4 linked regions of the Homo sapiens genome follow. The protein of the gene in region 2 purifies or fractionates together with the protein of the main gene of each other region. This does not show direct contact. Each region holds a gene or a part of one and is shown on either strand. Other genes may lie near its edges. The genes, in order: UBE4A, VSIG1, RANBP6 and GHITM.

Region 1 (7,897 bases), on a different chromosome or scaffold from region 2:
CTAGATACTAACCATGCTGAGTGTCCTGTCTTGTGTTTATTAACCATTCATATATTTTTAGTGAAATGTGTATCAAATCTTTTGCCCATTTTTAAGTTGACTTATTTGTTTGTCTTCTTACTATTGGGTTGCATATGTTTTTGATATAAGTCCTTTATCAGATATATGATTTGGAAATATTTTCTACCAATCTGTGGTTTGTTTTTCTTAATGGTGTCTTTTGAAGTGCAAAAGGTTTGAATTTTGAAGTACATTTTATTGATTTTTTCTTCTATATATTGTGCTTTTGGTATCATGTCTAATAAATCTTTACCAAACCCACAGTTACAAAGATTTTCTCCTGTCTTCTTTTTATACTTTTTACAGCTTTATGGTTTTAGCTCTAACAATAAATGTGATTTTGAACATACATAAGACTATTTGTAACAAACACAAATAAATTGAATTGTTGGGCACTTGTATTTGCATTTGTAATTTTATTAACTATTGCCAAATAGCAGTTGTAAACACGTACACACACACAAGTGTATATACACATATACATATATATACATATACATGTATGCATATATGCATATATACATATATGCATATATACACATATATACATATATACACATATACATATATGCATATATACACATATATACACATATACATATATGCATATATACACATATATACATATATACACATATACATATATGTATATATACACATATACGTATATGTGTATATATACACATATACGTATATGTATATATACATATATGTATATGTATATATACACATATACACATGTATATATACACATATACACATGTATATATACACATATGTATATATACACATATACACATATGTATATATACACATATACACATATATACACATATGTATATATACACATATACATATATGTATATATACACATATGTATATATACACATATACATATATGTATATATACACATATACATATATGTATATATACACATATACATATATGTATATATACACATATACACATATACACATACATATATGTGTATCTACACATATACACATATACACATATACGTATACGTGTATATACGTAGATACACATATACATATATACACACGTGTGTATATACGTATATACACAAGTGTGTATATACGTATACACACATATATGTGTGTGTATACGCATACACACATATATGTGTGTGTATACGCATACACACATATACGTATATATGACAGGGTCTTGCTCTGTTGCTAAGGCTGGAGTGCAGTGGCACAACATTGGCTCACTGCAGCCTCGACTGCCCAGGCTCAAGCAATCCTCCCACCTCAGCCTCCTGAGTAGCTGAGATTTCAGGCGTGTGCCACAATATCCAGCTAATTGCTTAATTTTTTTTATAGAGAGAGGGTCTCACTATGTTGCCCAGGCCAGTCTCAAACTCTTGGGGTCAAGTGATCCTCCCATCTCATCCTCCCAAAGTGCTGGGATTACAGGTGTGAGCCACTGTGCCCAGCCAGGTTGTACCAATATACACTACCAATAACAACAAACAAAAGTGCCTGTTACTCCATACATGTTCCAACAGTGTATTATTAAACTTTTGAATCATGCCAAACTGAATGGCTTCTCACTATAATTTTAGTTTACATTTTTCTTATTAAAAATTGGAGGCTAGGTGTGGTGGCTCATACCTGTAATCCCAACACTTCGGGAGGCCAAGGCAGGTGGATCACCTGAGGCCAGTAGTTTGAGACCAGCCCAGCCAACATGGCAAAACCCTGTCTCTACTAAAAATACAAAAAATTAGCTGGGTGTGGTGGTGGGTGCCTGTAAACCCAGCTACTCAGGAGGCTGAGGCAGGAGAATTGCTTGAACCTGGGAGGTGGAGGCTGCAGTGAGCTAAGATTGCACCATTGCACTCTAGCCTGGACAACAAGAGTGAAACTCCGTCTCAAAAAAAAAAAAAAAAAAAAAAAACTGGAGTAAACCATTTGTTTTTCCTTCTCATGATACATAAGTTCACATCTTTGGTCTTTTTCTTATTGACTTACACTAACCCCTTACATATTTGGGAAACTAGGTCTTTTGTGATATTAGTTGCAAGTCTTTTTCCAACTTTATGTGTTTTTTAACTTTGCTTTAAAAAACACATTGGTTAGTTTTTCACGCACACTTTACAATTATTTGCATGTAGTATAATTCACTGGTCTCCTATGGTCTCTAGGTTACGTTTCATATTTAGAAAGTCTTTCTCCATTTTAAAATTATCCTTTTTTAAAAGTTCCCCCATGAATTCCTCTAGCATTTTTATGGTTTTATTTTATGCATTTATATCTTTGACCCATCTCGAATTGATTTTAGCATCAGATCTAATGTAGTAACCAACTTTAAATACAGATAGTTACCCAGCTATTCCAGAAATATTATTGAATGATTCATTTTGCGTCCATTAATTTTAAATGCTGTTACAACCCCACTCGCCAGATTATAAGCTCCAAGAAGGAAAACACTTACGTTTTTTCACTATGGTATCCTTAGGAACTAGAACAGTGGTAGGCACACAAAGATTGCCCAGGGCTTTTTGTGTGTGTGTGGTAAAAGATATGTAACCTAAAATTTACCATTTTAACCTTTTTTTTTTTTTTTTTTGAGACAGAGTCTCACTCTGTCATCCAGGCACTCTAGCGCAGTGGCACGATCTCGGCTCACTGCAACCTCTGCCTCCCAAGTTCAAGCGATTCTCCTGCCTCAGCCTCCCAAGTAGCTGAGATTACAGGCGCACATCCACATGATCAGCTAATTTTTGTATTCTTAGTAGAGACAGGGTTTCACCATGTTGACCAGGCTGGTCTTGAACTCCTGACTTCAAGTGATCTGTCCACCTCGGCTTCCCATAGTGCTGGAATTACAGGCATGAGCCACTGCACCCAACCCCATTTTAACTATTTTTAAGTGTACCATTCAATGGCATTAAATATATCCACAATGTGTAGCCATCATCACTACCCATTTCAGAAATTTTTCATCCTCCTAAACAGAAACTTGGTACCCATTAGACAATAACTCCCATTCGCCTCTCCCTCCAATCCCTGGTGACCTCTATTATACTTTCTCTCTCAAGGAATGTGCCTATTCTGTGTACCACATATAAACTGAATCATACACTATTTAGTCCTTTCTGTCTGGCTCGTTTCAGTTAGCATAACGTTTTCAAGGTTCATCAATGTTTCAGCGTGTATCAGAACTTCATTCTTTTTCAAGGCTGAATAAGTCATCTGTAGCTATATACCATATTTTGTTTATGCATTCATCTGTTAATGAACATTCTGGGTTATTTCTACCTTTTGGTTATTATGAATAGTGCTACTGTAAATATATGTATACAAGTATCTGAGTTCCTGCTTTCAGTTATTTTGAACATCTATATCAAAGCGGAATTGCTTGATCATGTGGTTATACTATGTTTAACTTTTTGAGGAATCATCAAACTGTTTTTCCAAAAAGTCTGGACTATTTAACATTGCCATCAGCAACGCATACGGTTTCAATTTCTCCACATCTGCCAACAATTACTTTCCTTTTTTTTTATAGTAGCCATCCTAGTAGGTATTAAGTGGTATCTCATGATTTTTTTTTTCATTTCCCTAAAGACTAGTGGTGTTGAGCACTCTTTCATATGCTTATCCACCATTTGTACAGTTGGCCTTCCATATCTGTGGGCTCTGCATCTGTGGCTTCAACCAACCATGAATTGGAAATATTCCAAAACAAATTTCATCTGTATTGAACATGTACAGACTTTTTGTCATTATTCCCTAAACAATACAACACTATTTAGATTTATGTTGTATTAGGTATTATAAGTGATCTAGAGATGACTTAGTCATCTCTAGGATGACACAGGAGGATGTGCATAGGTTATATGCAAATACTGCATCATTTTATGTAAGGAACTTGAGCATCCTTGGATTTTGGTACCCAAGGGGGTCCTGAAACAAATCCCCCACAGATACCAAGTGGATAGTCATTCTCTTGGAATGTATCTTCTTTGGAGAAATGTCTATTCAAGTCCTTTGCCCTTTTTTGAACTGAACTGTTTGGGGGTTTTTCGTTCTTGTAGTTCTTTACATATTCTAGAGATGAATCCTTTATCAGATATATGAGTTGCAACTATTTTCTCTCAATCTGTGAATTTTCACTTGCACAGCGCTTTTAACTCTTGAAAATTATGCTGCTTCTATTATTTATGTGTATCCCGATCTCTTGCCCTCGTGACCCGCCCGTCTCAGCCTCCCAAAGTGCTGGGACTACAAGGCGTGAGCCACTGTGCCTGGCCATCTATGTGTATCTCAAAACAACCTTGTAGGATGTATACTGTCTCCACTTTACAGATAAGAAAACTGAAATCCAATCAAAGATAGCACACTCCAAAGATTGCTCCAAAGACAGCACAACAATAACAAACTTGTAGTTGTTATTGCTGTTAGTGTTATCCCTTTGAATAATAGAGAGTAACAGAAGCTGCTTCAAAAAGGTCTAGGACTGGTGGGAAAATAAGAGAGCAGACCCCCAACAGAGGTTGCGAGCAGAGCCAGGGATCACAGAGTTTTATCTGCCCTCGGTACGCTGATTTCCAAAACCCAGCCTCATATTCTATACTCCAAAGCGCACTGCCAGGTGGGCCAACTCCAGCCCCCACAATCCGATGCCAAGGCCACTTCTTGCCACTTCCTGCCCGCCTCCAGCCCGCCCCTAACAAGCTAGCGCATGCGCTGTAGGACTATTTGCGCGCCGTTCCCCCCGGTGAGCCTGCACACCGTGCTTCCGGCGCGGAGATGAACTTCCACATGCCCCGGCGCTTGTTGATGACGTAACTTCCGGTTGCTGTGCTGAGTCGGAAGTGGGAACCCTTCGGCCGCTGAGATTCTGTCGTGTCGTCGCTGCTGGCACTTCAGGCTCTGGTAAGACAGGCAATAGCTTCAGGGGACGGGGTCGTTGACTTTGCGTTGTGATATTTTCTGCTGGTCCAATGCCACTTCAAGCCTGTTCACTCTTATCTTCTCCAAATTCCTTCTCCTATGCTTTGCTAACCAGGGACCTTCTCCTTCTTGAACTTCGACCCTGTCTGATTTGGAACCCCTTACAGTGCCCCAGCTTCTGATGTCTCTTTGTACATTTCTGTCCCCATCTTTGCCAAGCCCCTCCTGGAAGAGGCCGGAGCGCTATCATTGCATTATCTTTTGACTTAACTTTCTCTAGAACGTGCCCCGGGCGGGTGGATCTCCCTCCTTCCCGCGAATCCCTTATGGAGCATGGAAGGATAAAATATAAAGAGTAGATAACAAATAGGCAGATGCCAAGAAGATAAGATTAATCGTGAGTCGTAAGCAAACCAGTTCAATGCATACGTCAGGGTGTTGATAATTCTTAAGGCAGGTGATGAGTTCACCACAGATAACTCTTGGGGCACTCTGCTTCATGTTTCCTTGGGTTTAGAAGACACTTCTAAAATTGAGTGACCATGCCTCATGACCTTATATTTGATGAGCCTTCCTTTTAGGATCAGTTTTATGCCCTGACAGCAAGCATGTGTTTAGTCTCGCTGTCATTTACTGTTTTGGTCTCACGTGGAAGCCCACCTGCGATAAAATGGGATCCAAGAAGGACTGCTGTCTGCTTTTTGACTTGAGATCCTTCTAGGCTGCAGATAGATGTGTTGATGGAATTTGTTGCCACATTAGCATGGCCTGATAGTGTTAGGTGAAACATACGACAACGAAAATTGTTTCTTAATTTCTATTTTAAATTGATATTTTAATTTCTATTTTATATTGATATATGTATTATTTGCCAGGACACAGACCTTATGGGAGTATGATTTGATAGAGCTTGATTTTGACGATCCCAGTTTTACAAAGTGTTCCAGATATTTCTGTTGAAAAACAATACCAAGTCTGATGTTAACACACTTGTGTGTTCATGAGAGCTGACAGTGGTCTTAAAGGATTAGTGGTACTATTCATAAACAAAAGCTTGTATTAGGAGGAAGTGACAGAATTTTGTAGGACAGCTATTATAGATATAGATCTTTGCAGCAAGTGTATCAGAGTGAAACTTGTTTTCAAGGAGGATATATTTTAAAAGAATCAAATCCAAAAGCTTCTAAGGTTGGTAGCTGTACCATCCCAAAGTGTCTGACAACAGGATAGTGTTGTATCTCTGTATGGCAGTTGAAAATAGGAAAAAAAATACATACATATATGTATGTATATATGTGTGTGTGTGTGTGTGTGTATTTTTTTTTTTTTTTTTTTGAGACAGAGTCTGGCTCTGTCACCCAGGCTCTGCTCTGGAGTGCAGTGGCACGATCTCAGCTCACGGCAACCTCCATCTCCCAGTTTAAAAGTGATTCTCCTGCCTCAGCCTCCCAAGTAGTGGGATTACAGCCTGGCTAAGGTGTGGTGGTATGCGCCTGTAATCGCTTTTAGTGGAGACGGGGTTTCACCACATTGGCCAGGCTGGTCTCAAACTCCTGACTTCAAGTGATCTGTCTGCCTTGGCCTCCCAAAGTGCTGGGATTACAGGCATGACCTACTGCGCCCGGCGCTGAAAATAGGAGATTATAAATCCCGAATGACATTATTGAATATTAAACAAAATATTTAGGTTTCATTTTATCGGACCTTTAGAGTGGGTGATTATCTGGGTACTCTTACTTTGGTAAGTCCATTGAACAAATCTAAACTGGCATCTCCACAAAGGTTCTCATCAAGTGATCAGTCCTCCTTTTTCCTGTAAAATTTTTCTATAAGTGACTACACAGTTTTAGCCCTTTTTTAATGAAAAAAAGTTTGTGCACAGATTTGACATACGTGTGAAAAAGATGAGCTTAGTGAAAGATAGGTGAGAACCTTTTTGTTTTTTACAGATAGTAGAGATGACAACAGAGACTTATTTCCATCCACCATTCTACACATGCCAAGATACCAAAGAACCAGTGTCTAGCCTGGTAGCTTGACCTTCCACTGCAACCTAAGACAAGTAGTAAAGCCCTTACCTTGAAGTAGGGTCATGGGTGATGCTGTTGATTACAAGGAGTTCAGAAAGAACTACATGTAAGATTGAAGCCATTCAATAACTACTTATTTAGGATTTTGTGATTGTGATGTATAATGCCAGACACAGAAGAAAGAATAATCAGATATGAACATGTAATCAGAAGAGCTTACAGCCTAGCAATGTAGAAGATCTGCTTAGAAATACAATGCAGAAAGTTTAAAATCCTAGTAAAAATAGAGGTAAAATGTAGAAAGCTAGTTTCTTTATACAGTGCAACAGTATAGTATTGAGAAAGAAGGAAGTAATGCAGTTTATGGTGATAAATTCTTTTTGTTTCTCTTGATAGTCTTTTTGTTTGTTTGTTTGTTTGAGACAGTTTCCCTCTGTTGCCCAGGCTGGAGTGCAGTGGCAACGATCTTGTCTCACTGCAACCTCCGCCTCCCAGGTTCAAGCAATTCTCCTGCCTCAGCCTCCTGAGTAGCTGAGATTCCAGGTGCACGCCACCATGCCTGGCTAATTTTTTGTGTGTTTTAAGTAGAGATGGGGTTTCTCCATGTTGGTCAGGCTGGTCTTGAACTCCTGACCTCATGATCTGCCCGCCTTGGCCTCTCAAAGTGCTGGGATCATAAGCATGAACCACTGTGCCCGGCCTTCTTGATAGTCTTAAGAGCTTCTCTGTCATATGTCCTATATTCCTGGCTTTCAGCTTCCTTTCTGCTTACGTGTTGCAGGTGATGCATGTCCTTTGTAATAATCTGGACACTTTTCAGTTGTGTTTTAAAAAACATCAAACTGGTTTAGGCATTTAGGGAAATTTTATTGGTTTTTATA
Region 2 (7,492 bases):
TGCCATTGCACTCCAGCCTGGGCAACAAGACTTAACTTCGTCTCAAAAGAATATATATATGTGTATATATATATATATATATATATATATATATATATATATATGTGTGTGTATATATATATATATATGTGTATATATATATATGTGTATATATATATGTGTATATATATATATGTGTGTATATATATATATGTGTATATATATATGTGTATATATATATGTATATATATATGTGTATATATATGTATATATATATGTATATATATATATATATAGAGAGAGAGAGAGAGAGAGAGAGAGAATGTCTTGTATTTTGGTGGTGATTGTTCATTCATTTAATGCCTACAAGGTGGCAAACATTTTGCTTATAGAAGGATTATTATCCTCCTAATGTACCACAGCAAAATATCCCCCAAATATTCATATTTAATCTGATAGATTTGAAGTGATTTAATTTCCAGCAACTTCATATATAATAGATTCATTTTGACTTAGGAAATAATATAATCAAATGATCACTCACTTTTTTGGATTTGAGTGCAAACTCAAAGTTCAAATATATTACTCCTTTAAAATGCATAGCATATACCTCCAGAAAATGAAACCCACATTAACATATCTTTCTAAGAGGTGACTAATACATATTTCAAATACCTAAAATGATATGCATAAATTTTTTGCAGAAGTTTGATTAAAACTCGTTTTCCTGAATTAGAATTTAACCTAAGAATTCCTAAGAAGTCATTGAAAATATTTTGATTTAAGCAAAATCTGACCTGTTTAGTTATATCAAAATCAATTTTAAATATGTATGTGAAAATGATGTCTGGATGTTTGGAATTTGGGAAAGTAATTCATTCTTTCAACAAACATTTACTATGCATCCACTATGTGTTAGGCACCACGCTTAACACCAAAAAGTGACATTCTCTCCAAAACAAGTCCAGGAAGAACATCAAATTGCACATTGATGGAAACACTATCAGTTGTCCAGATCAACTGATGAACACTGCTAATGACAGGTGTAGATTACTAAAGTGATCCTTTCTCTGACTTCAATACATATGTAAGCACAGCAAACGACAATAGAGCATACCACAATTTGCTGTACTGACACTACTGCTTTGGGCCAACTAGATAATATGTGTGTAGATATATAGTGTACACTATATACCAACAAAATCAGTTATATAGTAACTTAGGAAACACACTCTGAAGTATTTATTGGTCTTGTTCTAAAAGTCACAATAAAATAAAATCCTGACATGATGCTAAACAATTTTTTTAAACAATAAAAAAGTATACAAGGAATAAACCCAATTTTTAAAATGTAATATATACACCTGCAAATAAAAGAATAATAATTCACCCAAATCTGAGTGGTAAAATTGCAGATGATTTTTATTTTATTTTAAATTTCCATATTTCCAACCTTTCTACAATGACCATGCATTACATTTATAATCAGTAAAAATTACTTGTATGTTAGGTACAGTTAAAAAAAAAAAAAACTGTTCTTAACAACCGTTCCAAACCCTGTGCCTAGTATGGGCCAGGGCAAGGCTTCACATAGGGAAACAGGTATGATCTTAGAGGGCTGATGCAGAAGGCCCAGGGGTCGACCCAACTGGCTAATGACTGGAAACCCTTTAAGAAGAGACAAAACTTCCATATCTAAAGTTACATTTAAATGAATATGCCTGGGGAGAAGGGAAAATAGGAACATGTGTTTCCAGCTCTAGGGCCTAGTTAGGTCACTGGACAAATGGAGTATTGCCTTCTGGTGATGTTTAACTCCATAAAACATCTATGCTTAAACATTTAGTAATGAACATTTAAAGAACTATTTCTAAACATGAGATCACTTTGAAAAGTAACACTTTTTTCTAATTATAAAAATAGCATAATGTTCTTCGTAGAAAACCCAGGAAGTATGAAAAGCTGGGAAATAAAATTAAAATCATCTATAATCCCATCACCCAGAGGCAACCACCATGAGCACTTCGGTATATAACCTTCTAGTAATTTATTCTAGGCATATGTGTGCATCCTGCTTTTTCACTTAATATTTTATCGTGGGTATTTTCTTATGTCATTAATACGCCTAGTAAACCTCATTCTAACCACTGCCTAATATTACTAATGGCTTGAAAATCCTGTTTTTGGATAAACAATATTATTGTATTTACTATGGACCTAACTTATAAGAACAGATGCAAAATGTATCTGATATTTGAAAACTACCCAAGGGATTTTTGGAATTAATGATCTCTCCTGGATCTAACTAACATCAGTATTTTGATTCCAAAATTGATTTTCTTCTGTTCAGATACCTAAAATCACCCATGTTGTGCACCATAAATCACTCACATATTTTGCAAAATACAGTCTTAGGATTGGAAAACCACAACTCCTTAAGAAATATTAGACAGTAAAGTACTCAGTAAATTTCTGTTCTTCCCATATGTAAGCCAGGGCAGGCCCTCCAACCCAGGCTCTGCCTGCTAGAGCAAGTCAATCACTGAGCTTAAAGGAAACACTAAAGTAAGTAAAACAGAGACAAAATTATCCCTAGCACAAAGTTTGGTTTCTGAGTAAATTCATTTTTTTCACTTTTCAAAGTAAGTAAAGTAATAAACTATATTTTTTTCTGAGAAAATTTTCATTCAGAAGCTCCATAAAACAATAATATTATGGGCTTACACCCCTAATATATCAGCATGGCATATGTTTGCTAAGCAAGAGTTCTGAAAATTAACTCATCATACTAATCACAATTCATTTGAAGTACAGGAGATGAAAATTCTATGTAAAAATGTGGAATTTTTATTTAAAAGGAAACTCTGTTTCCAATTATATTTGGTGGTTTGGAGATCCTTTCCTTACCTGCAAGGCAGCTTAGGATCAGAAAGACCTTCCAAAATGCGAACACCATTGTGTGGAGGTTAGTTGAGAGCAGCAGGTGCCAGTAGCTTGCCTGGACTAGGCTGAGTCTCAAATTGGCTTCTTCGATCACACCGAGGTTTGCCTGGCTTATCTGCTGGGCATCGCCAAGCAAACATGCCTCTTTGGGCTTACTTATTGCGTATAGACTTTTTTCAGTACAGATTTGTGTTTCTTTGAAACACTTTTCATGGGGCGTGTTTCCTTGATATATTTGCTACTGTGTTAATAATAAACCCACGCATTTAAATTATTCAAGCTCCTTGTACACAGATTCTCTAAGTCTCATTGTTTAAAATCAATCTTACTAAAACGTTGTACTTGGGCTGGGGGATATGGTTGGAAGAGAGCCTATGCAAATAAAAGCTGACAAGGCTAATTAATTTCAAATATTTCCATGAGTCTTACAGAATTGATTCACTAACCTCCTTTTACAAATTAAGTTAGTAAATTGGTACTATATCGTTTCCTGGGGAGATGGGGCTCACGGGAAGGGCACAGGGGTTATGAAGCTAAAAAGCATTCATTTCTGTGTGAACAAACTCTGGATATGTTACTCTTTTTTGAAACACTGGCAGTTGTCACTACCCTCCACCAAAACTAGCAGTAAAATGATTTACATGCTTTTGTCTGTCGGGTTAGAAACCTTATAGCACGTATTTGCTAACGTAATTTTGCAAAATCAAGTTAGTGAATACATGCTTAAAGACTTTCTTTGGAGAAGTCTGATTTTTTGGAGAATTAAGATACTCAGTAAATGCTATAGGGTTTCCTTAGAAATGGAGGTTCACCAGGAGGGCATGGGAGGCTCCACAGGTAAGGAACTTTCATGGGAACATGAACTTCTAATAGTGTTCCTATTATGCTTAAGTTACCCGGAGAAACCTAAGGACTTTCTCTGGCTCTTCCCATGTGATTTCTAAGTCCTATCATTTCCATCTCCACAGCGACTTTCAGATGTGTTCTTTCTCCAATCTGCTGCTTCCATCTTGGTCCAGGTACTCAGCTTCCCACTTTGGCCTATCATAGCAGCTTCCTAAGTGGTCTCCCTGACTTATTCCACCTTCATCCTGTGTGCCAGCCGCAGGCCAATGTTCCAGCCCTAGTGAAATATTTCCAGTAACACCATAAATGGACTCTTTCATCAAATCCAAAGTCCTTAATATGGATTCCCATTCTTCCAATATCTGATCCTCACCTCATCTGAACTTTAGCCACATTAACTCATGCCCCTGAAAAAGTATGTCAAGATTTATTGCCTCAAAGTGTTCAGTCACATGAAATGTGTACAAATTTCAAGTGATATGTTTTATGTTCCTGTCTTTAATTTACAGGAAATGTTTGACCCCATCTTACTTTAGCCATTCCAATCTCCCACTGCTTCTTAGAAAGCCATTTTGCTTCCATCATGCCTGATTCCTCCTTGCAGCCTATCCTGTCCATGCTCATGTCTGATGCCAAACGTTGGCTCCAGGTGATTTCCATCACTAGAGTTTTCTTCTTCCTCCTCTTACTAGCCAAGTATATTCTTAGCATAGATCAGTCATACTGTCCTATGTGAGAATTTCAATGAACCGACATACCACCCTAGCATAAATTTCCATTTTACTTAAAGCCAATATCCTACAGCTGACCATTGATTATTCTCCAGTAGTTTCGCATTTATTAACTGGTCTACCTTAAATCTAGTCACTGTGAATCCCTCCAGGGTAGGGACCATGTCTTATACAGGCAGTTCCCAACTTTAAAATGAGCGTGTCCCAAGATGTAATGGTAAACTCGTTGACTGCACGCAAGAACTCCTGCAGAAGCAATGTTATAATATGAGTCTCACTGTCAGGCATGTAGCACATAATCTAGCACTGGCTTGAATTCTGCGTACTGGGCCGTATAAGGCAGTGGAGGGTGAGGAGGAACAGCAGGTGACAGAGAAAGAACGTTCCTTTCATTTCCCAAGATATGACTTGTGCACAAATCAACATTTTCCCCCAAATAACTATTGCATGTCTCTGACATCCACCTTCTCTTCTGCCTCCCACCTTCACGGCCCCCTGGCTCCTGGGTCCCTAGTTTGCCCTAAGGGAGAGTCTCATTCCCCAGAATATCTCATGCTCCAAAATTACTTTTTCCTTTTCACCTCTATTCCTCCCAGAAACCCTCCCTTTCCCCTGTATAAGCAGACAGCAGCTCCATGTTAGGAAGGGAAAAAAAAACGTTTCATTGAACATTCTCCAACCTGTTTGTGCTATTAAAAATACAGTGCTTACTTTCCTCACATAAATCTCTGACCAGGAGAATTAGGCAATGCAATAAAGAGAAATAGTTTGAGGGAGAAGATTTTGCAAAGGAGGACAACTTGTAGGGTGGGTCTCTGGAGATCCATACCACCTTTTCTCAGGCTTGGTTCTGCCTTGACTTCTAAGTCCACCAAGTCTCTAAAAGACCCATAGTTTTCACAATGCCCCCCACCCTGGAAGTAATACCGGTAGTTCCAGTGGTGAGGACGTGGGATGGGGAGCGAAATTTATAAGTCTGGCATTTGTAAGCCAGAAGCTTCCTGTGTTTCCTTCCATGCCCCATAAGTGATTATAGTAGTGTGACCATTGATCATTAAAACTAGGACACTTTTGAAAGTGAAAGGGGCACTATTAGCAATTACCTGGGAAAGACAGCATAAACAGTAACAGTGCCAGACAAACCTGGGTGTCTGGTTACCTACCCACAGGGGATTACTAGGCACAAAGTAGGTGCTAAGTAAGAGCTTGCTAATTAATTCAGTATGTCTGAGTTGGTTGGCCCTAAGATGAGTGCAGCAGAGGGTATGATTTAAGGATATTGCCCAAACCCATCTGCACCAAAATCTGTTGTGCAAACACAAAACACTCTGGAATATTTAAGTAAAATATCTATACTGCTGCTATGTAAGACCTAACCAGGACAGGAAGAATTCTGTTATAACAAACTCTAAAAGAGAATTTAAACTCTCTGCTTGGACCTGGATTTTGATGTTATTAACTATTGCTTAAAAAGTGGGTCATTAACTAGGACACGAAATATTAAATATCCTTTGCAGTTTTATAGAGCTTTATAATTTTTAAACTAATTTTCCATTTTATCTTTGTAGCTTTCCAATACAACAAATAAATCAGGTATACCTACATTTTCTATATAAGAAAACTGAGGCTCAAAAGTGCTGTGCTTTTCCCAAGGTCACCATAGCACGCATTAGAAGCTGTTCCTATCACACCACACAATGGCACGGTGTGATTGTAATGTAACAAATATGCTACTGCCCCCAGTATTCTTCCTTGGGAACTTTCAGAAATATGTGATATCTGATTTATCCCTCATTTTTAACTTAAAAATTACAAAAGTAATACATTTTGATAGTAAATGGTTTTCAAAGGACAAACAAGGATACAGAGGAAAAAAAGTCCCATTCATTCACTCACACATGTAATCCCTTTCCCAGGCTCACATGGAACAGGAGTTTAGCATTTTTCTCAGACCTTTTTCTATGCATGTACACATGCACAAACACACACACACACACACACACACACACACACGAGGTTTTTTAAAACATAAAGATGATAATACTGTACATTTTGTTCTATAATTTGCTTTTCTCCCTTAAAAAAGGTATTTTTATTCTCTCTTTCTGTCACTGGGTCCAACTGCATCTATAGATCAACCTTGTCCATGTTAAGGCTGCATGGTATTTCATGATATGAATGTACCTCAATTTATTTAATCATTCTCTTATTGGTAAATTCTTAGATGGTTTCCAGTTTTTCAATATTATTGACAATGGTTCAATGAACATGTAGCTTTCCAATACAACAAATAAGTCAGGTATACCTACATTTTCTATATAAGAAAACTGAGGCTCAAAAGTGCTGTGCTTTTCCCAAGGTCACCATAGCACGCATTAGAAGCTGTTCCTATCACACCACACAATGGCACGGTGTGATTGTAATGTAACAAATATGCTACTGCCCCCAGTATTCTTCCTTGGGAACTTTCAGAAATATGTGATATCTGATTTATCCCTCATTTTTAACTTAAAAATTACAAAAGTAATACATTTTGATAGTAAATGGTTTTCAAAGGACAAACAAGGATACAGAGGAAAAAAAGTCCCATTCATTCACTCACACATGTAATCCCTTTCCCAGGCTCACATGGAACAGGAGTTTAGCATTTTTCTCAGACCTTTTTCTGTGCATGTACACATGCACAAACACACACACACACACGAGGTTTTTTAAAACATAAAGATGATAATACTGTACATTTTGTTCTATAATTTGCTTTTCTCCCTTAAAAAAAGTATTTTTATTCTCTCTTTCTGTCACTAGGTCCAGCTGCATCTATAGATCAACCTTGTCCATGTTAAGGCTGCATGGTATTTCATGATATGAATGTACCTCAATTTATTTAATCATTCTCTTATTGGTAAATTCTTAGATGGTTTCCAGTTTTTCAATATTATTGACAATGGTGCAATGAACATCCTTTTGTCAAGATCTGCCCACTTGTGTGATTA
Region 3 (7,281 bases), on a different chromosome or scaffold from region 2:
ACACTGGCAGAACTCTCATCACAGTACACCTGAAGGCCTCTCTGTGTCTGAAAAAGCTGTACCCTTTACTTAGAACAACTTTCTCTCTTTTCAAATGGTTAATGAGGACTCATTCTTCAAAAGTCAACTCTGATACCTCCTCTGGGAAGCCTTACTTGATCAACCCCATACCCAGAGTAAATTAGCTGCCTCCATAACCCCATATGGCTCCATGGCAGGCTTATCATTACTACAGTGATCACTACGCTATGTGACATTTACTATCTCTGTTTACTATGAGATTCACATATCTTCATGAATTTAGTCTTTAATACCAGCAACTCAGCACCATGCTTGAGTGTACCCTCAAAGAATGCTTGCTGAGAGACTAATTGAATAATTGCATACTCTTTTTCTTTCTTTTTGTTTTGAGACGCAGTCTCGCTCTGTCACCAGGCTGGAGTGCAGTGGTACAATCTTGGCTCACTGCAACCTGCGCCTCCCGGGTTCAAGCAATTCTCCTGCCTCAGCCTCCCAAGTAGCTGGGACTATAGGCACGCGCCACCACGCCCAGCTAATTTTTGTATTTTTAGTAGAGATGGGGTTTCACCATGTTGGCCAGGATGGTCTCAATCTCCTGACCTTGTGATCCGCCCAACTCGGCCTCCCAAAGTGCTGGGATTACAGGCATGAGCCACTGCACCCGGCCAAATAATTGCATAATCTTAACCCAGAATTTTTCAAACATTTTTTTCTTTTTCTTTTTTCTTTTTTTTTTTTTTTTGAGATGGAGTCTCCCTCTGTCACCCAGGCTGGAGTGCAGTGGTGTGATCTTGGCTTACTGCAACCTCCGCCTCCTGGGTTCAAGCAATTTTCCTGCCTCAGCCTCCCTGAGTAGCTGGGACTACATGCGCACACCACCAAGTCCAGCTAAATTTTTTGTATTTTTAGTAGAGACGAGGTTTCACCATGTTGGCCAGGCTGGTCTCGAACTCCTGACCTCAGGTGATCTGCCCAACTTAGCCTCCCAATAGCCTCCCAAAGTGCTGGAATTACAGGCATGAGCCACTGCGCCCAGCTCATTTTTTTCAAAGAGGTTGTACCAATTTACCTATACTCTCAACAAAAATATAACTGAGTTTCCTGTTGTTCCACATCCTCAGCAACCCTTGGCTTTGTCAGACTTTTAAAGCATTGTGGTAGGTCTGTGGTGGTGTATCACTGTGGTTTTTTTCAATGTCTTTCATATGCTAGTGGATATAGTATTAAGTAATTAATTAATTATTATTAACATTTCCTGAAACGGCAAATGCAAAGTCCCTCCAGTTAGACTTTTTGAAGGAACAGTAAGAAAACCAATGAATGGGCCAGGTGTGGTGGCTCATGCCTGTAATCCTAGTACTTTAGGAGGCTGAGGCAGGTGGATCACTTGAGGTCAGAAGTTTGAGACCGGCCTGGCCAACATGATGAAACCCTGTGTCTACTAAAAATATAAAAATTAGCTGGGTGTGGTGGTGCATGCCTGTAATCCCAGCTACTCAGGAGGCTGAGGCAGGAGAATTGCTTGAACCCAGGAGGCAGAGGTTGCAGTGAGCTGAGATCGTGCCATTGCCCTCCAGCCTAGGTGACAGAGCGAGACTCCATCTAAAAAAAAAAAAAAAACAAAGAAAGAAAGAAAACCAATGAATGCACAACTGTAGTCATAATCTTAGAACCAGAATTGATCTTATCAGCGATTCTCAAATGTTGGTATTTATATAAAAACCCAATGTGCTGGTTGAAATTGTACATTCTTAGTCCTCAGTCCCCCCAGAATTCTGGGTTAATAGGAACTTGGGCCCTAACATCTATATTTTAAAATAGGTATCCCAAGCAATTCTAATGCAGTTGGTTTTCAGTCTACAGAATGAGAAATTCTATTTTAGAAAATAGCTCTGTTTCATATTACAGTGTCTTTTTTATGAGACAGAGTCTTGCTGTGTCGCCAGGCTGGAGTGCAGTGATGCAATCTCGGCTCACTGCAACCTCTGCCTCCCAGGTTCAAGCGATTCTCCTGCCTCAGCCTCCCGAGTAGCTGGGACTACAAGCATGTGCCACCACGCCCAGCTAATTTTGGTACTTTTAGTAGAGACGGGGTTTCACCGTGTTGGCCAGAATGGTTTTGATCTCTTGATCTCGTGATCTGCCTGCCTCAGCCTCCCAAAGTGCTGGGATTACAGGTGTGAGCCACCATGCTCGGCTACAATGTAATTTATGAGACTACCTACTTTGTCTATCATCTGGTTAATGTAAAAGCTACGACTTTCTAATTTTTGTGGGTATATGCGGCAGCACTTTACAAAAACAAAATTAAGGCTGCTTGGAAAAGTTTAAGACAGAATTTGCAGTAAGTGAAGCCTCTGATCATGCTGCAAAACCAAGAGTAGTTAATGGGGAAGCAATATGGTGAAAAGAGCATCAGTGTCACTTTCAGAAGAGGTAGAATTGAGACTCAGGTGTGTCATCCTAGGCAAATCCTGTAACTTCCCTTAGTTTCCACTTCTCACCTAAATTTAGTATTATATCTATCCTAGCAATCTCTCAATTCTGTATAAGGGTCAAAATGAGTGTGGCAAGTGCTAATACAAAAGTAAGACCTAATCATTGTTATAGGAATGAAACTTGTTTTTGATTGACACACCTGCCTGAATTAAAGAAACAAACTGGCCAGGCGCGGTTGCTTACACCTGTAATCCTAGTACTGTGGGAGGCCGAGGCGGGTGATCTCTCACGAGGTCAACAGATCGAGACCATCCTGACCAAACATAGTGAAACCCCGTCTCTACTAAAATACAAAAATTAGCTGGGCGTGGTGGCATGCGCCCATAGTCCCAGCTACTCAGGAGGCTGAAGCAGGAGAATTGCTTGAACCCAGGAGGCAGAGGTTGCAGTGAGTTGAGATCGCACCACTGCACTCCAGCCTGGCGACAGAGCGAGACTCCATCTCACAAAAAAAAAAAAAAAAAAAAGAAACAAATTTAGTTTCATCAACATTTGTTTCTTGGAATAACCTCAGCAGCTTCCCACTAATGGTTAGTTAGGATTCTAGTTAACCGCATCCCTTCATATTTCAGTTTAGACAAGATGCAAGGAAAATCTTGAGTAACTTGTCCTAGGATACAAAATTAATTTAGTGACAAGGCCAGGATGCAAGTCTGTCTTCTGATTATTAGTTCAGATCACTTTCTACCATACTTTACTCAGTTGTCTTTCCCATTCTTTATTATAACCAACAGGCCAGGTGATTCTGACACACACCAGATTTTGAGCTACCACTCTACTGCATTAGATGTGGTAGTGGGGAAGTAATTATTATTTTATTATCACACTTATTATTTTATAAAGCTTTATTGTAGTATTATTTATATGCCATACAATTCACCAATTTAAATTTAACAACTCAATGGTTTTTAGTATAATCACAGAATTGTGCAACCATCACAATTAATTTTAGAACATTTCATCACTCAGAAAGAAACACCCTATTTGATAGCAGTCATTCTCTATCCTCCCCTCCCCCCAACCTCTGGCAACCACTAATTTCTGTTATACAATTTGCCTGTTTGGTACCTTTCATACAAATGGAATCATACAATATGTGGTTGTGACTGGTTTCTTTCACTTGGCATGTTTTCAAGATAGACTTATTGTTTTAAAATTATCAAAGTAACAATATAGTTTAGAAATAAAAGAAAAAAATCACTCATAATCTGACCAGAAGCAGTGGCTCACACCTGTATTCCCAGTACTTCGGGAGGCCGAGGCGGGCAGATCACCTGAGCCCAGGAGTTCGAGACCAGCCTGGGCAACATGGCGAAACCCTGTCTCTATAAAAAACACAATTAGCCGGGCGTGGTGGCGCGCGCCTGTGGTCCCAGCTACTGGGGGAACTGAGGCGGGGAGGATCGCTTGAGCCCAGGAGGTTGAGGCTGCAGTGAGCAGGGATCGCGCCGCTATACTCCAGCCTAGGTGACACAGCCAGACCTTGTATCCAAAAAAAAAAAAAGTCATGATCCCATTCTAATCAATGCTTTTCTTCTCTCGCCTGCAAGTGCACGTTTATCTTATTGAAAAACAAATGGAGGATGCCATTGGCCTCCACACGGCTCTCACCTCTCTCCAAAACCTAGCTCGCAGCCTGCCAGAGCGCAGCTAGAGTTTCTGGGCAGAGGAGGGAGAAGCACCCCGCCCATCCCCGCCGGCGCCTCGCCTACGTCACTGCTTCGAGCCGCAGACCCCCTCCCTCCTTCCCGGTCGCGGTAGCTTTGACAGAGCGCAATGGCGGCAACCGCGTCTGCAGGGGTGCCGGCGACCGTGTCAGAAAAGCAAGAGTTTTACCAGCTTCTGAAGAACCTGATCAATCCAAGCTGTATGGTGCGGAGGCAAGCAGAGGAAATCTATGAAAATATCCCAGGTCTGTGTAAGACTACCTTCCTCTTAGATGCCGTCAGAAATAGAAGAGCAGGTTATGAGGTGAGACAAATGGCTGCCGCACTGCTACGACGGCTTTTGTCCTCTGGGTTTGAGGAGGTTTATCCAAATCTGCCTGCTGATGTTCAGAGAGATGTCAAGATTGAACTGATTCTGGCTGTTAAGTTAGAAACACATGCTAGCATGAGGAAAAAACTTTGTGATATTTTTGCAGTGCTGGCCAGGAATTTGATAGATGAGGATGGCACTAACCACTGGCCGGAAGGTCTGAAGTTTCTTATTGATTCAATCTACTCCAAAAATGTGGTTCTATGGGAAGTTGCACTTCACGTTTTCTGGCACTTTCCTGGGATTTTTGGGACCCAAGAGCGGCATGATTTGGATATCATCAAACGGTTGTTGGACCAGTGTATTCAAGATCAAGAACATCCAGCAATCAGGACATTATCCGCTAGAGCTGCAGCTGCATTTGTACTTGCTAATGAGAATAATATTGCTCTTTTCAAAGACTTTGCAGACTTGCTTCCTGGAATCTTACAGGCTGTGAATGACTCATGCTACCAGGATGATGATTCAGTGCTAGAATCCCTTGTTGAGATTGCAGATACCGTACCTAAGTACTTGGGTCCTTATTTAGAAGATACTCTACAGTTGAGTTTGAAGTTATGTGGAGACTCTAGGCTTAGTAATCTGCAGCGCCAGCTGGCCCTCGAAGTTATAGTGACCTTGTCTGAAACTGCCACTCCGATGTTGAAAAAACATACAAATATTATTGCACAGGCAGTTCCTCATATATTAGCAATGATGGTTGATCTACAAGATGATGAGGACTGGGTAAATGCTGATGAAATGGAAGAAGATGATTTTGACAGCAATGCAGTTGCTGCGGAGAGTGCACTAGACAGACTGGCTTGTGGGCTTGGTGGAAAAGTTGTTTTACCAATGACCAAGGAGCATATCATGCAGATGCTTCAGAGCCCTGACTGGAAGTATCGACATGCTGGATTAATGGCCTTATCTGCCATTGGAGAAGGATGCCATCAACAAATGGAATCAATTCTAGATGAAACAGTTAACTCCGTTTTGCTTTTTCTTCAGGATCCTCATCCAAGGGTGAGGGCTGCAGCCTGTACTACACTTGGACAGATGGCTACAGATTTTGCACCTAATTTCCAAAAGAAATTTCATGAAACAGTGATTGCAGCTCTGTTACGTACCATGGAAAATCAAGGTAATCAGCGTGTGCAATCACATGCAGCTTCTGCTCTTATTATTTTTATTGAAGACTGCCCTAAATCATTGCTAGTTCTATATGTGGATAGTATGGTGAAAAATCTACATTCCGTCTTGGTGATTAAACTTCAAGAGTTGATTCGGAATGGAACTAAGTTGGCTTTGGAACAACTTGTGACAACCATTGCATCAGTTGCAGATACAATAGAAGAAAAATTTGTCCCATATTATGATATATTCATGCCCTCACTAAAGCACATTGTTGAGCTTGCTGTTCAGAAGGAACTCAAGCTTCTGAGAGGAAAAACTATCGAGTGCATTAGCCATATTGGTCTTGCTGTTGGGAAGGAAAAATTTATGCAAGATGCATCAAATGTGATGCAGCTGTTGTTGAAGACACAATCAGACTTAAATAATATGGAAGATGATGACCCTCAGACCTCTTACATGGTTTCAGCATGGGCTAGAATGTGTAAAATTCTTGGAAAAGATTTTCAACAGTACCTTCCACTGGTTATCGAGCCTCTTATTAAGACTGCTTCAGCTAAACCTGATGTTGCTCTCTTAGACACACAGGATGTGGAAAATATGAGTGACGATGATGGCTGGCAATTTGTAAATCTTGGAGACCAGCAGAGTTTTGGAATTAAAACTTCAGGACTTGAAGCAAAAGCAACTGCTTGCCAAATGTTGGTTTACTATGCTAAGGAGTTAAGGGAAGGGTTTGTGGAATATACAGAACAAGTTGTGAAGCTGATGGTTCCTTTACTGAAATTTTATTTCCATGACAATGTTCGAGTGGCAGCAGCAGAGTCCATGCCTTTTCTCCTGGAATGTGCAAGAATTCGTGGCCCAGAGTATCTTGCACAGATGTGGCAATTCATATGTGACCCCTTAATCAAGGCTATTGGTACTGAACCAGATACAGATGTGCTCTCAGAAATAATGAATTCTTTTGCAAAGTCCATTGAAGTTATGGGAGATGGTTGCCTTAATGATGAACACTTGGAAGAACTGGGAGGAATACTGAAAGCAAAACTTGAAGGGCACTTTAAAAACCAAGAATTGAGACAGGTGAAAAGACAGGAAGAAAACTATGATCAACAGGTTGAGATGTCTCTGCAAGATGAGGATGAATGTGATGTTTATATTCTGACCAAAGTATCAGATATTTTGCACTCATTATTTAGTACTTATAAGGAAAAGATTTTACCATGGTTTGAACAACTACTTCCATTAATTGTAAATCTAATTTGTTCAAGTAGGCCATGGCCAGACAGACAGTGGGGATTGTGCATATTTGATGACATCATAGAGCACTGCAGTCCAACTTCATTTAAATATGTAGAATATTTTCGGTGGCCAATGCTACTAAATATGCGAGATAACAACCCTGAAGTCAGGCAAGCTGCTGCTTATGGCCTGGGTGTCATGGCACAGTTTGGTGGAGATGATTATCGTTCTTTATGTTCAGAAGCTGTTCCACTTCTGGTAAAAGTTATTAAGTGTGCAAATTCCAAAACCAAAAAAAATGTCATTGCTACAGAGAACTGTATCTCAGCAATAGGGAAGATTTTGAAGTTTAAGCCTAACTGTGTA
Region 4 (4,593 bases), on a different chromosome or scaffold from region 2:
ATCACACTGATATGGGTATCAGGATGGGGAGAAGAAAAATAGAAAATTGGCATTTACATTTTTACTAATAAAAAAAAGCATCAATAGCTAAGACTTATGTAATGCTTACTAAGTGCCTGCACGTTTAACCATAAACCTATAAGACAGGTTCCAATATATTCATTTTACAGGAGAGGAAACTGGGCACACAGAGGTTAAGTAATTTGCCCAAGGTCACATAAGAAATAAGAGTTGAGATTCAAATAGAGGTAGTCTAGCTACAAGTATCATGTACTTATCACACTGCACTATACTATACTGGCAAGAAACTAAGTTGCTTTCTTGAAGAAATCCCTATTCAAATGGCATGCATATGATTCACTTGGAAAAATTAGACTAATCAACATCTGGCTGAAACCTTTGTTTCAGAAATAAGCCTCCTATGTACTTTGAGATGATTAACAGTATTTCTGCATTACTGTAATAAACATTTGTCAAAAAGAGCAATCACCTCAGTCATCATACAGACTTCTTTCCCTTCATTAAAGACTTCTAAATATAACTCTTCTGTATCAAAGAACTTACAAATGTCTCAAGAAAGTAATGGTGTAGCAGTGTAAGAGAAGTAAAAGTCTGCTAGGGGAAACTAATGAAGCATTTTCCTCATTACACTTTTGGGTTGATATATTTCATTAAGACAGAACTAGTTCTGTTTTGCTTTGCTTTTTAGTGCTTAGTCTGAGAGGCAATGCGAGAAACCAAAAGTCTTAGGAGAAAAACTGCTTTCATAATTTCCAGTGTAAGCCACAAAGAAGCTTTTCTATAAAGGCTTGAAAGCTTGAAGAGGTGACAAGAGCAAGCTGTATTCAATTAGACAGTTCAATAAATATGCAAAAATAAAAAAACACTTAGCAATCATGAGTATACTGTTTGTATTCTGGAAAAAGCAACATATTTCATGCTTTGAATATTTTCTCTTGAGAATAGTTTTAAAGTTATTTCCTTTTGTAACATTCAAAAGTAAAACACACATATATAATTCCATCAAGGATTCTCTGTATGATTAACATTCTGTACAAGTCAAACATGACCACATCTATATTGGAAAGAGAGCACTGAGAAGCAACAGCAGGAGAATGCATCACCTGTGCCTGTTTCAGGATGAACAGTTTTGTTAAGTTCAGCAGATGAATGTAACAATGACCACTTGTTTCCAAATACCCAGATGTTTCTTACTGGCTCCTCACTAATCAATAACACAAGTGCTAAGTTCTAAGTATTTAAAAAAACAAAAGACTGCAGGTGACTCCTTCTCTCTGGTCCCTTTACCAAAGCTCCAAATCACTTATGACATTAATTACAATATTCTGCACTCCAAAAAAATATGCAAACACAGGTTTGCTAAATTTTAGTTACTCAGTGAACCTACTAAATTTTAAAGTAGAAAAAAGACTTACATTCTCATGACACAAACTTTAGTTTTCACATTCACCAAAACATTTTAAAATCACTCAAACATGAGAATTGAAAATGTGTGTGCTTATTTGGGAGAGGATTACTGCATTTATTCTCCAGAAAAAAAGGCAGACCTGAGGCATCACATTACCGGAACATTTAAATATGATGACATGTTTCTTATCTTCTAAACTTCAACGAAAGCTGCTTGTACAAACTATTTAATGCATATCTGCCCCATTAAACAAGATATTTGATGTAGCAGAGAAGCCAGAAGCTGAGTCACTTCATTTCTTTCTGTTGCCTCCAGTTGCCAGCATAGTTGCAACTCGCATAAATATATTTAATGTATCCATGTAGATACTCAGCATCCTAGAAAAGAAAATTATGCCCATTATATATGATGCAATTCTAATAGTGATGTTGAATTCTTAATATAGAAAAGAAGAAAAATACTATTTGTCTTAGTGATATAAAATGGAAATTAAAAATAAGATGTTTAACTGCCAACTAATGAAGTACTAGACTAGAAAATAGTTAAGGTCTTCCTTTTGGCAGACTCATCTTTTAAATGTTAAAGAGCAGTTTAAAAAAATCATTATTTTATTCTCTGACACTCTGCATATATCAACTTGCAAAGAAAACTAGGTGGCAGACAATGAAATAATCAAAACAAGACCAAAGAAACACCTTTATAAAAACCTGTTAGACACAAGTCTAGCATTTTTTAATATAAAAGACCCACTTCACCCCTCTAAAGAAAACTTCTACAAATCTGTAAGCTTTACAGTACAGCAACTTTTTCTTCCCCCTAAACCATTACATTAAGTTTTATTTTTAGATAAAATCAAATTACTTTAAAAAAATGTGACAGACACAATGAAACTCAAGAAAATTGTTTAAATAAAATAACCCACTTTGGTCGACTCCAAGAAAAAAGAAAAAAACATAATAACAATTAATACCAACTAAAGTTGCATATCTCTGAAACTAGACTCTTTATACTGAAGAGTTTCTAATTTCTAGAAGTATAAAATAGGCTTTTCTATTAAAAATTCCATGTCAATTATATACATTTTCCAATAAATAATACTTGATTAATACATTTCTTCAGTTTTAAAGTCTGCAAAATACACTACCAAAAAAATTAACTGAGCAGTAAGAGCACATTATTTATTGCACCCTGACACTGGCTCACAAAAATAGACAAAATATTCTGATAATGGAATGAATACCTAAGTATTACACTAAGTTGCAATAAAATCAAGAGGTTTTTTTGGATAGTTTACTAAAGAGAGAACAGACAAAACTGCAACAGAAGTAAAACAGGAAATCTGACAAAGCCATTGGTGTGGTTTGAGCTGTGACCCTCCTCTGCCCCCCAACAAAATATAATGAAATCCTAATCCCTGGTACACAGGAAGAGCACCATGTGAAGATGGAGACAGAGACTGGAATGATCCATCTACAAGCCAAGGAATGTCAAGGACTGCCAGCAGTAACAAGAAGCTGAGAGGCAGGGAACAGATTTTCCCTCAGGGCCCTCAGAAGTACAACTCTGCTAACACCTTGATTTTAGATTTCTGGCCTCCAGAACTACAAGAGAATCAAGTTTTGTTTTAAGCCACCCAGTCTGCGATACTTTGTTAACAGTATCCCTAGAAAACTAATACAGCCATAAACCAAAACAGGTCAAATACACACAAGCATCCTTATGTGACAGAGTAACAGTGTTAAATAAAAAGCATTACTTACGAGTTAATGGGATCATATTTTTGAACTCCATACATTGGTGATACTTCTGCACGCTTGATTACTTTCTGGGTATCATACAGAAGGAACATGCTGAAAAGAACTAATCCACCGTACATTGCCACTGAGTAAAGAGTGGCACCAGCCACGGTGGTAGGTGGAAGAAACATAGATCCTGAAATCAAAATGCGAAAACAAGATTTTTTTTAAAAAAGGATTTCCGATAACTGAGTTTATGATTTATATTACTTAAAAAAAAATCTCCTTGGTATACTGTGTAGGTAAGACGACATCTGGGTACATGTACTGTCTAATCTTATTTGCATTAGTTCAAAATCCATGATACTCATTCCTCCAATGAGCCACTTGCCCATTTCACAGGAAGGTTCTTGCATCAGAGCAATATTCATGTTCTCCAGACCAACTTTCCCATTTTAGATGTGTTTGGTAAAGCCAGTAATAATGGTTGACCATGTTGCCATGATTTTTATATGATGTCAGGTAGTAAAATCCAGTCAAATTAGCATAAATCTTTAAAAAAACTTTTAAAATAAATGACTCAATCAATTAGGATATTGGAGTATTTCAGGTTACAGGAAACTATGCACCAAGAATTAAGTGTTAAAACACAGCAGCTTACCCAATGAGGACACAAAGACGAGACCCAGGCCCACTCCCAGGGGTGCACCCATGTTCAGAAACTTTTCACTGGGCGCACACATGGCCACAGTGGAGAGGCCTCCCACAATGCCAGCTGTGTACCATGCAGCTCTGATGAGAAGAGGACCCCCTAATATTGTCAGAGGAGCCACCACTGCACCCATCACACCTGGAGAAAGAGGAAGTGCTCATTAAGTATTTACTAAATAACAAGCAAAAGGAAAATATCACTTCTAACATGCCACTTTATATTATACCTTACTGTTTAAGCACTATGATTCAAAAAGTTCTGCCTTTAGATAATACTACCCCCACCAAATTCTACAGCCCAAATTGGTGACTACTCAAATTCTATATCACAACATTAACACTATTCCTAATCAATCACACTCACAAGCAAACACTAATCTACTTATTTAGTAACCATCAAATTCCATGTAGCTATTTGAATCTGAGCTTACCACTAGTTTCTACAACATTCATATAATAATTGAGATAAACAAGCTTAAAACAAATAACTCAAGGTCAAACCTACTGCTGTCAAAAGGGAAAGCATATGATGATAAACTTAAAATGTGGGAACTTCTAAGACAGACACTGCTGTTTCTTTATGTAATAAGGACTGCTAACAGCTTATAAATAAGTAATTTTAGTTGTCAGATATTTATAAACAATTTCGTAAAAAATTTACCAGTAATTCAACAAAGGTAAATGGAACTCCTTAATTGAAAAAAAACTTAGATAATG

Evidence for each region.
Region 1: the proteins of VSIG1 (region 2) and UBE4A purify together in Homo sapiens (co-immunoprecipitation; 3 studies listed by BioGRID and IntAct, with this or other methods). This does not show direct contact.
Region 3: the proteins of VSIG1 (region 2) and RANBP6 purify together in Homo sapiens (co-immunoprecipitation; 3 studies listed by BioGRID and IntAct, with this or other methods). This does not show direct contact.
Region 4: the proteins of VSIG1 (region 2) and GHITM purify together in Homo sapiens (co-immunoprecipitation; 3 studies listed by BioGRID and IntAct, with this or other methods). This does not show direct contact.

What each region holds. Positions count from the first base shown.
Region 1 is NC_000011.10:118,354,707-118,362,603, forward strand, and holds the start of UBE4A (ubiquitin conjugation factor E4 A), read left to right. Parts: upstream 1-4,893; 5' UTR 4,894-4,968; intron 4,969-7,897.
Region 2 is NC_000023.11:108,040,574-108,048,065, reverse strand, and holds the start of VSIG1 (V-set and immunoglobulin domain-containing protein 1 isoform 2 precursor), read right to left. Parts: upstream 3,002-7,492; 5' UTR 2,936-3,001; coding exon 2,887-2,935; intron 1-2,886.
Region 3 is NC_000009.12:6,012,623-6,019,903, reverse strand, and holds the start of RANBP6 (ran-binding protein 6), read left to right. Parts: upstream 1-4,279; 5' UTR 4,280-4,296; coding exon 4,297-7,281. UniProt on the Homo sapiens protein: May function in nuclear protein import as nuclear transport receptor.
Region 4 is NC_000010.11:84,149,477-84,154,069, reverse strand, and holds the end of GHITM (growth hormone-inducible transmembrane protein), read right to left. Parts: intron 4,016-4,593; coding exon 3,827-4,015; intron 3,362-3,826; coding exon 3,190-3,361; intron 1,807-3,189; coding exon 1,722-1,806; 3' UTR 502-1,721; downstream 1-501. UniProt on the Homo sapiens protein: Plays an important role in maintenance of mitochondrial morphology and in mediating either calcium or potassium/proton antiport. Mediates proton-dependent calcium efflux from mitochondrion.